Homo sapiens: one gene and its partners. The protein of the gene in region 1 purifies or fractionates together with the protein of each later gene. This does not show direct contact. Each region holds a gene or a part of one and is shown in the gene's direction. Other genes may lie near its edges.

Region 1 (4,969 bases):
TTCTAAAACTAAATTAGCCAGGCATGGTGGCGTGTGCCTGTAGTCCCAGATACTCCCCAGGAGACTGAGGCAAGAGGACCCCTTGAGCCCAGGAGTTGAGCCCAAGAGTACAAGGCTGCAGTGAGCTACAATCAGGCCTCTCCATCCAGCCTTGACAACAGAGCAAGACCCCATTTTTTAAAAAAGTTGTATTTAAAGGAAGAATTTCACATTTATCTTTTTGCCCTAGTATTCTTGAACTGGTGATACAGGGTTGTATGTTAAATAAAAGGAAAACACACAGTAATTGTTGCTGAGAACCAGAAAAATCTGTGCATTTAAGTGGGTTTAAAATTTATGATTTTATAGCTCTAACTTTTTCCTGGTATTAAAAAATGTTAAGATCTCTCCAGCGAACACTGAATGAGTTAAAAGAGTATCAAAAGCAGCATGACCACTACCTGAGACAGCAGGAAATCCTAGAAAAACATAAACTGATTCAGGAGGAGCAAATCTTAAGAAATATCATTCATGAGACTCAGATGGCAAAAGAGGCACAATTAGGTAAGTAGTGACTCCAAGTAATTGAAGACAGGTTAGGAAATTCACTTTTAGCATGCTTTACTATCATAACTTTCTTGTAGCCTTAAAGCAGTGTGAAGTTGTGTTTATGACTTCCCTACATCTCGAAAGCATGATTCATCACTGTGGGTATACCAGGAGGCCTGGGGAGCTGGTTTGGTCTACCTTGCTTTTTTCAAATTTACATTTTGAAATAAAAAACAAGTCTTGTAGATCCTAGAAGTCTTAACAGTTATTTGCATTCTGTGTTCAACATCAGTTTTTTTTCCTACCCTAATATGCATATCAGTCTCCTGGAGATCTTGTTGAAATGCAGATTATGATTCAGTAGGTCTGAATTGAGGCCTGAGAGTCTGCCTTCCTAATAAGCTCCCAGGTGATGCTTGTTGCCGCAGGTCTAAAAACTCTGCACTATGGGTAACAAGGCCTTACACTAAGTGAATACAAGCCAGACCCACCCTACAAACAACCCATCCATACTCCTTTTTTTCTTGCTCTCTTAAAAACAGTGTTTTAGAAGTAAAATTTTAGACTGGAATTCTTAACCTGGGTCAATGGATTAGTTTCAGGGGGTTCTGAAATCCTCTCCAAAATTATATGTAGAATTGTGTATGTGTCCAATTTTATTTTTCTGGGAAGAGGGTATCTAGCTTTTATTAAAATCTCTCAAGCATCTGTGATCCATAAAAATAGAACCACTGGTTTATAGGAACTTGGGTTGGCATGAGAACAATGATTTGGTTATATCTAGAATGTTTTGTTTCTAATGACAAGGGAGCAGATCTGACAACTCAATAACAGAGAATAAATTAATAGAATCTCTTAATTATACCCTTCTCCCTTGATAAGTATGTTGGTCAAGAAAGCCTCTTAACCTTTGGCACTTAGCTGTGACCATTTATAGTTTATTTTACAATTCCCTTAACAAGTTTTCTTTGCTATTATGAGTGTAAAGAGTATGCTCAGTCTTTGGAATTACTTACTGCCCAGTATATTGAAATGTAACCAGAGCTCTTATATATGCATTTGAAACAAAATTATGAAGTATGTAAAGCAAATTCTCTCCAGAAAGATGGCCAAAGTCTCTTAAAACGATGTAATCACTAGATTTTACAATCACAGACTATAATTGCTGAAAGATACCTCAGTAATCATCTAGTGGAGTCCCTTTGTTTTTGTAGGTGGAAAAACTGGGACTTCTTAGAATGATTTATTTGATTAACCATTAATGAATATTTCTCTATATAAGTACGTCCTACGTAAGTAGCCTGCTAGGCTCTGAGGGATACAGGGTTGATACTAAATGACTTAGTCTAAGAAAATCACATTGGCATTGTTGACCTTGCTCATCATTTGTGTAATTTCCTTTCTTATTCCAGGAAATCATCAGATATGCCGACTGGTCAACCAGCAGCATAGTTTACATTGCCAGTGGGACCAGCCTGTACGCTATCATCGTGGAGATATCTTTGAAAATGTGGACTATGTTCAGGTCTTTTTCTTGGTCCAGTCTAATTCTTATAAACGTTTGCTTTATAAAGATTTTTTAAAACTTTTGTTTTTCCTCTTGATTCTTTGTATATTTGATCCCTAAAATTTGTGATTGTCATTTAGATCTTTAAGATTTTGAGGCTGGGCACAGTGGCTCACGCCTGTAATCTCAGCACTTAGGGAGGCAGAGGCAGAAGGATCACGAGCCCAGGAGTTCAAGACCAGCCTGGGTAACATGGTGAAACCCCATCTCTACAAAAACATATATAAATTGGCCAGGTATGGTGGCATGCACCTGTAGTCCCAGCTACTCGGGAGGCTGAGGCGGGAGAATCATCTGAGCTCTGGAGGTCAAAGCTGTAGTGAACCCAGATCATGCCATTGCACTCCAGCCTGGGCAACAGAGCAAGACTGTGTCTCAAAAAATAAATAAATAAATAAATAAATAAATAAATAAATAAATAAATAAATAAAGAGCGAGAGAGAGATTTTGATTATCTGTTATGTTGTTATGTTTACGAAGTCAGATTTTATAGGGAGTACTCAATAACTCCATGGATGCTTTCTATTTCTTAAAGTACCATCTAAATATTTATATGCACATGCATTTGATTCTTTTCTCTTTTACCATGGGAGCTAGAATTGGGCTATTATTATTATTGAACTCAAAGCTTTCATCTCCCCACTTTCCCTTTTAGAGTAAGACCTATTTAAAATTTGAGAGCAACCATGCTATTTGTTTCCTGAAGTAATCAGTCCAATTATATTGCCTCAACCAATACCACCAACAAAATGCTCATTATCAACAGAAAATCTTTATTAAGCCCACTGCTAGGTGTGTACTTTCTCTCACTTTCTGTCGCTGTATATACACACGTGTATACACACACACATACACATATACAATCCTAATCTATCTAGTTGGGAAGAACTAACACATGTAATGATACCAGATAGTATATAATAGATGTTGAATAAGTGGTACAGACAGCAAGTACAGCCAGAATTCTGAGTATAAAAAAAAAAGATTCAAACTCTGAAACTTTTTGAGCACTGACATGATGCTCAAAAGAAATGATCATTGGAGCATTTTGGATTTCACATTTTTTGATTGGGATGCTTAACAGGTAAGTGTAATAAAATATTGCAAAATCCAAAAAAATCTCAAATCTGAAATACTCCTGATTAAGCATTTCAGAAAACTGATACTCAACCTGTATTAGAAATAAAACATTTATTCTATCTTAGAGAAAACTCATCATGTCTAATCGTAGATACAGAAATTTCCAGCAATAACTACTTAAGATAACTAAGAGATTAGGAGAGCATCTATAGGAGGACAAACCACAAAAACTTAGAACTCTTTAATCTGGAAAAATCCAGACTGCATTGGGAAAAAATAAGAGACAAAAATTAAGAAGCCATTTTAAAGGGGAAATAGTGATAGGGACCAAAAGCTTCCTATGAGTATTGTAAACCAGCTCCCAGCAATATCTCATGTTTGGTTTCCAAGGGAAAAAATAAAGAAGACCAGATTCACACCCTCTGGGATTATAGCTCTTTATCTTAAAACCAAGCATTTTAAAGGGAAGAAGGGGGATGTTTAGAAATGAAATAGATTGAAACCCAATACACCTTTTGGACTTTTTGATGGTCTCAAGACCGATCATTTGAAGGAGTGTAGCTTCCAATAGTCTATATTCATAAAATTGTATCACCACTATATAGTGAAAGAATCCATTCCTGTTCACAAAGACCTAGAGCTACAAATTCGTCATATTCATTCCTTTTCCTTTTGTCTTTCCTACCCCATCCCATCCCCAGTCCCATTCTCATTATCTAGCAAGGTTTCAGAAATACACAAGCATCTTTGTAAGTATATCCAACATTGTTCCACCTTGCTTTGAAGGAAGGCTGTATATGTTTGTGTTCTCTCATCTAGGTTACCCTTTCACCCTCAAAACTTTTCTTTGTAATTGATTGCACAACAGTCTGTAATCCTTAAGTGATAGTTATAGAACCCTTAAGAATACTTTCTTAAGTTCCCTCGCCTCTACCCACACACGGCACACCAATTTTAGAGTGGTGAGCATTTTAGTGTAGGAAGAAAAGGGGAATAATGAACCAGATTTCTCAATTAGCTAATTATTAACCTAAAGAGACTAAATCATAAAAATGAAGCAAAGGGACAGGAAAACGACCTATGCCATTTTTCTCATACTCCAATGGCAAAGTTATTGAAAGTTGTTAACTATGTATTATCCATGAAAGAATATCGTTGGGGCATAGTTCTTAAAAGATCCAATTGCTTTATTACTGAGCTACTTTCTGATTTTCTACTAATTTTGAATATTCACTCGCTTTTTTGGTGTGAGTTAAATTATAATCACAACTCCTTTTCCACTTTCAATTTGATTGAACTTTTTGTTTCATTTTCTAGTTTGGTGAGGATTCATCAACCTCCAGTATGATGTCTGTGAACTTTGATGTTCAATCAAATCAGAGTGATATCAATGATTCGGTCAAGTCTTCTCCCGTAGCCCATTCTATTCTCTGGATTTGGGGCAGGGACTCTGATGCATATAGGGTAAGTTAATAGAGGATGACGAAGCAGTTTTCTCAAACTGGCAAGATCCATTAAAGCAGTGGCCCTCAACCTCACTGATTAATATGGCCTCTATGACTGTTCAGATTAGTTCAGCAAACGTGTAGTACATTTCTATTAAATGGAAGCTATTCTGCTAGGTAGTGAATGAGTAAGATGCAATTTCTGCCTTGAGTTTTTCCCAGTCAAGTAGAGCAGATAGACACCCTGATTTCAGTTCAAAGCTTTATCCTCTGAGTATTATTACCAACCTTAACAAGTTTCTAAACTTGACCCAAGCGTATGTTTTTATATACTTCACTTAATCGGCAT
Region 2 (5,115 bases), on another chromosome or scaffold:
CGGTGGAGGCCCGAGGCTGTGCTTCCGTCGCTGGCTCTGAGGCAGAGGTCCAGGCCGGCAGGCTGCCCAGGTGGTCCTGTCTCAGAGCTCTCCGGGGCGCAGAGGCGCGGGAAGCGGGGAAGGGCCGGGCAGCGAGACGGGTGTCCCCAGCAGGAGGTCGGGGACCCGTCGCGCGTTCCGTCGGGGCCGCCTGCGGTGCAGGGGTCAGAGACCAGCCACGCGAGCAAGAGGGAGCCCGGCCAGAACTGCTGAGAGCCCCCAGCGGAGCTGGGACTCAGGGGCTCCTTGCGTTTAGCCACCAAGAGTGGGGGCAGGCTGCGGGGTGCCGGGGAGAAGCCAGATCTCACTCATTTTACACCGACTAATTAGATCCCGCCGCCCACCTGGGACCACGGCATTGTCATGTCCGCTGCACTGACGGGGAAATTGAGGCACGGGGGCGAGTAAGGCGGGAGAGGGAGTCGGCGCCGCCGAGCTGGGGCGAGCCCCGCACCCACCCGTACACTCGGCCTCTGCCCCTGCTCTGTGCGTGGGCTCCTGCTCTGTGCGTGGCCTCGCCGCCGAGCTGGGGTGAGCCCCGCACCCACCCGTACACCCGGCCTCTGCTCCTGCTCTTTGCGTGGCCTCCTGCTCTGTGCGTGGCCTCTGCTCCTGCTGCGTGCACTGCGGCATCTCGGGAAACCGGGCTGGGCTCCTCTGTCCTCTGGAAGCTACTGTAAGTTTTAGATAAATGTTACTACTAGACACGAGGAAAGTGAGTCCATGATTACTGGCATTGAACAAATGGTTGCACCGCGTTCTCCGTGGTAGGTGGAGTGTGTGATTGTGAGAGGGGAATGGACACTGAATCCTTACCTACACAAATGCCTAAACTCGTAAGGCATTACGACACACCCATCTGAAAATCTAATTAAGCGGTAGGAATTCTAATGGTCCGGGATCCAAATGAGACCCAGCCACTTAACAGTTAGCAGCCTTCAGTTTTGTCCTGTTGCCCGTAATTACCCCAAGGTCAGGGAGAAGCACTGAAGCAAAGGCATGAACATCACTTTGAAAAAGAAAGGAGTTAATGGGTGCAGCACACCAACATGGCTCATGTATACATATGTAACAAACCTGCACGTTGTGCACATGTACACTAGAACTTAAAGTATTATATATATATATATATATATATATGAAAGAAACCTGCCTGGGGCACTCCTTCCTTCAGACTCCCCTTGAAAGTATTCCCTCATTTCATTCAAAAGGATTTAACTTTTCTAAACTAAGTGGTGCTGGTAGAATATGCTACCTGATTTACGTGTTGCTGTAATTCTTGAAGCTCTTCCAAGACATCTTGGCCTTCCTCTGTTCCCTCCCCTTCCTGCTATTTTGCAGACATATCCACTGGGGAATTGTATGGCAGGAAGGCTGATTTTATTTAGCTGGCCCTTGATTCTTGGTTTGCACAGTATCTGGGTCCAGCCTGCAGCCCTAGGGTCCAGGTAAGTTCATCAGGAAAGGATTTCTTTACATTCAATTTAAGCCATCTAGGTCCTAAAACAACGCTTATATTATCTGTGGGATAATCCTGCTTAGTTATTTGCAAAATAGTCAGATGTCTATACAGTTTTGGGTAGGAAAGGGGTAAGCCGCTTTCAAAATTCATTCTTGAGGAAGAGGCTAAAGAGGAGATAAAAGCAGATTTTGAAATTCTTCTGCTGGAACTCTGCAATTGGCTGGGAGGAGAGAGAAAAACCATAGAATAAGTCATAAGAATAGTGGGCTTTTTTTCTTTTTTTCAGATGTAGTCTTGCTCTGTCGCCCAGGCTGGAGTGCAGTGTCATGATTTCAGCTCACTGCAACCTCGCCTCCCGGGTTCAAGCAATTATCTGCCTCAGTCTCCCGAGTAGCTGGGATTACAGACATGGGCCACCACACCCTGCTAATTTTTGTATTGTTAGTAGAGATGGGGTTCCACCATCTTGGCCAGGCTGCTCTTGAACTCCTGACCTTATGATCCAACCGCTTTGGCCTCCCAAAGTGCTGGGATTTTTTTTGAGACAGAGTCTCACTCTGTTGTCCAGACTGGAGTGCAGTGGCAGGATCTCAGCTCACTGCAAGCTCCGCCTCCCGGGTTCACACCATTCTTCTGCCTCAGCCTCCTGAGTAGCTGGGACTACAGGAGCCTGCCACCGCGCCTGGCTACTTTTTTTTTTTTTTTTGTATTTTTAGTAGAAACGGGGTTTCACTGTGGTCTCGATCTCCTGACCTCGTGATCCGCCTGCCTCGGCCTCCCAAAGTGCTGGGATTACAGGCATGAGCCACCACGCCCGGCCTATGATGGATCTTTTTAAGAGAGCTTTCTAGAGAAGCTTATAGATTATTTTGCACAAATTTTAATGTGTACTTTTTTTTCCTGATCAGGTTCATCATATTCAGATTGTACACATTTTCATTTTTATGGCTATGCTAATTTACAGTGCAGGAAAAAAATAACTGTCAAGATATGTTGAAGAAGGCTGGGCGCGGTGGCTCACACCTGTAATCCCAGCACTTTGGGAGGCTGAGGCGGGTGGATCATGAGGTCAGGAGATCAAGACCATCCTGGCTAACAAGGTGAAACCCCGTCTCTACTAAAAAACAAAAAATTAGCCAGGCGTGGTGGTGGGCGCCTGTAGTCCCAGCTACGCGGGAGGCTGAGGCAGGAGAATGGCGTGAACCCAGGAGGCAGAGCTTGCAGTGAGCCGAGATCGCGCCACTGCACTCCAGCCTGGGCAACAGAGCGAGGCTCTGTCTCAAAAAAAAAAAAAAAAAAAAAAGATATGTTGAAGAAATGTATAAAGTGTGTAATATAGAGAGTGCATGGAAGACAATATATTCGATGAAGGCAGCCTAGAGCTATTTTGACTCTTAGATCGTCAGATCCGGGAGGGCATTCGTCCTTTCCAGTGCATGCAGGAGGAAGCTGAGGCTCTGAGGTTTGGAAACCCAGGAGATATCACTCAGCTGATTTCTAGCAGGTTTACATTAAATCTTAGTTTTGGAGAGTTAAGAATCTTGAGGAGTGATAACCTTGGCTGTAGAATTAAGGATATGATGTTCTTGGAGAAAATTAATCAGGAAGAGGGCACTGGGTGACCATTTATCAAGAGATTCTTTAGCAAAGGACAGATATAGGTAAAGAATCGGAGAATGAGTCAGAAATAAGTGAACTAAATAAGAACACTATTTTGGGGGGACTAAAAAACATTAACTTCAAAGTTATTTGCAGTCTGTGTCCCTTTGCCCTGACCATGCCAGTATGTCTGGCTCATGCGGTCACAGCATTCTGCAGAATGATGGCCTCTATTCTCTATACATACATATGATATCAATGTATAGAGATCTTGTCTTGATTTGTCCAAGGCAGTGACTGTTGTCGCTTTTTACATATATTACTGGGAGGGTTGTATGCCCAGTGAGTCCCCAGCAGCTGTCACTCTGGCTGACTACAGATGTCTGCAAGCCTCCTCACTTCTGAAGAGCGGCCGCACCTTGGGCAGCGCATGCCTTGAATTAGGATGTGGGCTCAGCTGTGTGTCAAGACCCCAAATAACAGTGGCTTATGCAAGATAGAAGTCTATTTCTGTTTCATATGCTTATGTCAAAGATGTGCTGGCAGGTCTGGTCTGTGGAGTCATCTGAGGCCAGGGGTTTTTCTATCCCCAAATTGTTGCCCTCCTTCAAGGAGTCCCACATGGTTCACCATGCCATGCACACCCCCCCACAGGAAGCGGGAAAGGGCACCCCCTTACCCTTTAAGGCCGGTCATTGCACACAATTACACGTCTCACTTTTGCTCATCCCCATGGCCCGTAATCTAGCTCATGGTCATACCCAGGCTGCAAGGGAGGCTAGGGAGTGCAGTCTATCATGGGCCCCTAGAAGCCCAGCTAAAATTTCTATTACTCTGGATGAAGGTGAGAAGGGGTGTTGGAGATTACTAGCAACTCCACGAAAGCACTGACAAGGATCAGAGTTGATACCCAGTCACCTTCCCAAGTGATGGTCCACACACAGTTGGAACCAGGATAGTATTTCTTGCATGCCTGCATTGATTCATTCAACAAATACTTGACTGAAAATAAGGAAGTAGAAAAATGCAGTCACCATCTTCATAAAGCTCTAACCCAGGTTGGTGCCTACTAAGTGATCATTAGTCTAGGTGTGGTGTACAGAGTAAGTGGGGACTGGGGAGGACAGTAATTCAGATGAGAGAGAGAGTGGATGATTGCAGGGAAAGATGGGAGACAGAAGAGGCTCCTAGCTCTAGTGCCTTCTGGGAAAAGACCAGACCCAGAAATTAAAAGTCAAGAGTGTAACTGTAGTTGAACTAATGAAACTGAGGGTCCAACCCATAGCTTTGTGAGAGGCACAAATGTAATTTTTTATTTTTCAAAATAACATTAATATAATTTCTTCTATATTCCTTGTGCAAATCCTCAACCTTCTACATTAAAGAAGAGGCTAAATAGGAGGTATAAACTTGCTAAAATTTCTTATTAAAAAATAGTGCCAAGCGGCCGTGTGCAGTGACTCACACCTGTAATCCCAGCACTTTGGGAGGCCGAGGTGGGCGAATCACAAGGTCAGGAAATCGAGACCATCCTGGCTAACATGGTGAAACCCCGTCTCTACTAAAATACAAAAAATTACCCGGGCATGGTAGTGGGTGCCTGTAGTCCCAGCTACTCGGGAGGCTGAGGCAGGAGAATGGTGCGAACCCGGGAGGCAGAGCTTGCAGTGAGCCAAGATCGCGCCACTGCACTCCAGCCTGGGCGACAGAGCGAGACTCTATCTCAAAAAAAAAAAAAAAGAAAAAAAAAATAGTGCCAACCTAGGTGGTGACCACGTCTCTAATCCCAGCTATTCAGAAGGCTGAGGCAGGAGGACCACTTAAGCCTAGAAGTTCGAGTCCAGCCTGGGCAACATTCATGAGACTGTATCTCTATAAACAAACAAACAAACAAACAAATAAAACAGAAATAGTGGCACAACTTACTTTGCTACGTATTTGGGAGAACGCATATTAGTTAATCAAAATCATTTGCTGAAGGTTGTCTACATGCTGTATAAACAAGCTAGATAGAC
Region 3 (4,371 bases), on another chromosome or scaffold:
AGTGCAGTGGCGCAATCTCGGTTCACTGCATCCTCCGTCTCCCGGATTCAAGCAATTCTGCCTCAGCCTCCTGAGTAGCTGGGATTACAGTCGTGTGCCACCACACCTGGCTACTTTTTGTATTTTTAGTAGAGATGGGGTTTCACCATGTCGGTCAGGCTGGTCTCCAACTCCTGACGTCATGATCCCCCTGCCTTGTCCTCCCAAAGTGCTGGGATTACAGGTGTGAGCCACTGCGCCTAGCCAAAATTTTTTCATTGTAGTAAACAAATATATAATATAGGCCAGGTACATTGGCTCATGTGTGTAATCCCAGCACTTTGGGAGACCAAGATGGGATGATCACCTGAGCCAGTTTGAGTCAAGCCTGGGCAGTGTGGTGGAGCCCCAGCTCTACTACAAAAAAAAAAAAAAAAAACATTAACCAGGTGTGGAAATGCATGCCTGTAGTCCCAGCTGCTCAGGAACCCGAGGTGGGAAGATCGCTTGAGCCTGGCAAGTCAAGGCTGCAGTGAGCCATGATCACACCATTACACTGCAGCCTGGGCAACAGAATGAGACCCTGCCTCAAACTATATACATATATAAATATATATATGTAAACATAAAATTTACCATCTTAACCATTTATAAGTGTATAGGTCAGGCCCAGTGTGGTGGCTTACACCTGTAATCCCAACACTTTGGGAAGCTGAGGTGAGCGGATTGTTTGAGCCCAGGAGTTTGAGACCAGCCTGGGCAACATGGTGAAACCCTGTATCTTAAAAAAAAAAGGTGTATAGTTAAGTAATGTGAAGTATATTCCCATTGTTGTGAAACAGATTTCCAGAACTTTTTCATCTTGCAAATCTGAAACTACCATTGAACAACTTCCCATTTCTCCCTCCCAGTCCTTGGTAACCATTCTTCTCCTTTCTGTTTTTGTGAGTTTGACTACTTTAGATAACCCCAGTATAGTAATACAGTATTTGTCTTTTTGTGACTGGCTTATTTTACTTAACATAATGTCCTCAAGGATCATCTGTGGTATAGCATGTGATGGAATTTCCTTGGAAAAAAAAATCAGATTTTAAAGTAAGGTGGACCTGAATTGAATCCTAGCAGGGTGACCAAGATTAAGTTATTTAACCTCTCTTAACTTCAGTTTCCTTATTTCTAAAGAGGTGATGATAACATCTATCCCATAAAGTTGTTAGGAGGATTAAGTGAAATAATATGTTTTAAAAGCGTAGCCAGTGTGGCATATAGGAATAGTTGTTTAGTAAATAGTTGCTCTCAGCTAGTAGTTAATTAGACTGGGCTTCCTGAAGAGACTGTGTCTTATTTTTCATTGTATCTGCAGAGCCTGAAACCTTGCCAGCCATTTGATATTCAGGAAATTGCTTAAATTGAAATACTGTGTCCTCAGTCTAATTTCTGTCTGTACTTGCCAAGCAATCTCATGGCTTTAAAGAGTTCCAGAGTCAGATTACCTAGGTTTGAAACCTAGCTCTGGTATTTACTTACTATGTGTCTTTAGGCAAGTTATTTAATCTGTTTATGCCTCAGTTTATTTATTTGTAAAGTAAGTATCATAGGACCTGACCTTCCAAGGTTGTGGTGAGGACCAAGTGAGTTGTACATATAAAGCACTTAAAATAGTGACTGAAACATACTTTCTCAGCTATAAGTACATAGCTTACTGCTATAAAGATTAGCTTGTATTGTTATTAATAACTGCTCTATACGCTGACGGATCCTAAGTTTCTGTTTCCATTCGTGTTTCTCCTTTTAGCTCTGGATGGGTAGGTATATCCAATTGCCTTCTAGCATTTCCACTTTGATGTCTAATGGGCATCTCAAACTTAGTATGTCGAAAGCCAAAATCCTCTCCCTTTTCCATCAGACCTGATCTTCTCCATCTCCCTAAATGGGGCATAAGGGAAGCCTGAGTCATGACTACTGGCCACATAATTTGTAATGGGTCAATTCTACTTGGATTTTAGTTTGCTTTATTTTCTTCCCTTCGTTTTGTTCTGCCCTCTGTCAAGGCAATAAAATATGCTGGGGTGATACTTTGGAGTTTACTGAGCCTTTTCATATTCATCAGCACATTTGATGCTTAATGCAAATCAGATCTTATAAATCCTTTGCTTAAAACTCTCCAGCCTCATCTCATTGCAGTTGATAGAATCAATTCTGGATTCCTTACCATGGGCGTACAAGGCCCCAAATGATCAGTACGAGTTGAAGGAAAGGATAGACTGAGTAAACGCTGGGCTCTAGGATAGTGCAGCTCACATTACAGGTCATGACCCGCCATCCCTGGATGCCCTTCAGTTTGGCAATCTGGTGACAGACTGGGTTGTGGGATGCTGTTATATTTCCCACATGGCAGTCGTTGCTTCCTTTATGATTATTGGCATATCTAAATGCCCCTGAGTGTTCCTTACTTTATATTTTTTCTTTAGATTCACTGACTTTTTTTTTTTTTTTGAGATGGAGTCTCGCTCTGTTGCCCAGGCTGGAGGGCAATGGTGCAATCTCAGCTCACTGCAAGCTCCGCCTCCCAGGTTCATGCCATTCTCCTGCCTCAGCCTCCCGAGTAGCTGGGACTACAGGTGCCCGCCACCACGCCTGGCTAATTTTTTTTTTTTTTTTGTATTTTTAGTAGAGACGGGGTTTCACCGTGTTAGCCAGGATGGTCTCGATCTCCTGACCTCATGATCCGCCCACCTCGGCCTCCCAAGGTGCTGGGATTACAGGTGTGAGCCACTGCGCCTGGCTGACTTCTTTTTTTTGTGAGATGGAGTCTCGTGCTGTTGCCCAGGCTGGAGTGCAGTGCACAGTCTCGGCTCACTGCAACCTCCGCTTCCCGGGTTCAAGCGATTCCCCTGCCTCAGCCTCCTGAGTAGCTGGGACTATAGGCATGTGCCACCATGCCCGGCTACTTTTTGTATTTTTAGTAAAGACAGGGTTTCACCATGCTGGCTAGGCTGGTCTCAAACTCTTGATCTCTTGATCCACCCACCTCAGCCTCCCAAAGTGCTGGGATTACAGATGTGAGTCGCCGTGCCCAGCCAGATTCACTAACTTTTAAAAAAAATTTCATTAGGCACTACTTGTTTTAGCCTCATTCTAACCATTAGTATTTATGAAACCTAGGCATTTAAGTCAAACAAATCTTACCTGGCTTTTCAAAGGTAATTTGATACTGAAAAACTCCTGATTAGGATAAAGTCTTATTCATATATATATACACACACACACACACACACACACACACACACACACACACACACACACACATATATACACACACACACATATATATACACATATATATATACACACACATACACACACACACACACACACACACACACACACACACACACACACATATGCCATTCATTTCAATGGGAAGTTTTCGTATTCACAAGCCCTTAAATTTGCTCCTAATTTTACTGAATCATACCCCATTAAAGGACACAAAAGTATTCAGTGGTTAACATGTATTGTCAGAATAACCCAACAAGGTATTTTATCTTTATTATCCTTTAAGATATCTATTTAGGCTGGGTGCGGTGGCTCACACCTGTAATTCTAGCACTTTGGGAGGCCGAGCTAGACGGATTCTTTAAGCTCAGGAGTTCAAGACCAACCTGGGCAAGATGGGTGAAACTCCATCTTTACTAAAAATACAAAAAATTATCCGGGCGTGGTGGTGCGTGCCTGTAATCCCAGCTACTTGGTGGCAGTGGTGGTGGTGTGGGGGGCTGGGAGGGGGAAGGGGGCAGGGCTGAGGTGGGAGGATCACTTGAGCCCAGGAGACGGAGGTTGCAGTGAGATTGCGCGAGACCCTTGCATTTAGTGTGGTATTTTGAGGCATTAGATGTCTTACATTTAGGATTAAAGAAACAAATAAGATGCACAGTTATCTTCATGGAATTTAGCCTTTAGTTATTTTTAAAAACAATAAAATCAGTGGAAACTGTAAATGTCTAGAAATGTCATATTTGCTAAACAGGTTGACAGTTTAGAGGGTATGATGTAAGAGATTATCACTGCTGTAAACTGTTAAACCACAAGTACTTCAAGAGAAAACCCATGTGATACCTGCCAGTAATTCAACTGGGAAGATGACTGAATGGTGGCACTTTTGTCACAGTGCTGAGCTGTTCACAAGGAAAACAAAATTCTAATGATTTTTTTTTTTTTTTTTAGACAGGGTCTTGCTCTGTTGCCCAGGCTGGAGTGTAGTGGTGAAAAAAAACTACTGAAACCTCCGCCTCCTGGGCTCAAGCAATCCTCCCACCTCAGCCTCCCGAGTATCTGGGACTATAGGCGCATGCCACCATACGCAGCTCATTTTTGTATTTTTTTGTAGAG

Evidence for each region. Proteins that work in one complex are often made in the same cells at the same time.
Region 2: the proteins of TTC17 (region 1) and C1QTNF9 purify together in Homo sapiens (co-immunoprecipitation; one large-scale study listed by IntAct). This does not show direct contact.
Region 3: the proteins of TTC17 (region 1) and TRPC4AP purify together in Homo sapiens (co-immunoprecipitation; one large-scale study listed by IntAct). This does not show direct contact.

The regions. Positions count from the first base shown.
Region 1 is NC_000011.10:43,399,506-43,404,474, forward strand, and holds part of TTC17 (tetratricopeptide repeat protein 17 isoform 1 precursor), read left to right. Parts: intron 1-382; coding exon 383-543; intron 544-1,940; coding exon 1,941-2,053; intron 2,054-4,492; coding exon 4,493-4,639; intron 4,640-4,969. UniProt on the Homo sapiens protein: Plays a role in primary ciliogenesis by modulating actin polymerization.
Region 2 is NC_000013.11:24,308,130-24,313,244, forward strand, and holds the start of C1QTNF9 (complement C1q and tumor necrosis factor-related protein 9A precursor), read left to right. Parts: upstream 1-1,450; 5' UTR 1,451-1,487; intron 1,488-5,115. UniProt on the Homo sapiens protein: Probable adipokine. Activates AMPK, AKT, and p44/42 MAPK signaling pathways.
Region 3 is NC_000020.11:35,085,443-35,089,813, reverse strand, and holds part of TRPC4AP (short transient receptor potential channel 4-associated protein), read left to right. Parts: intron 1-4,371. UniProt on the Homo sapiens protein: Substrate-recognition component of a DCX (DDB1-CUL4-X-box) E3 ubiquitin-protein ligase complex required for cell cycle control.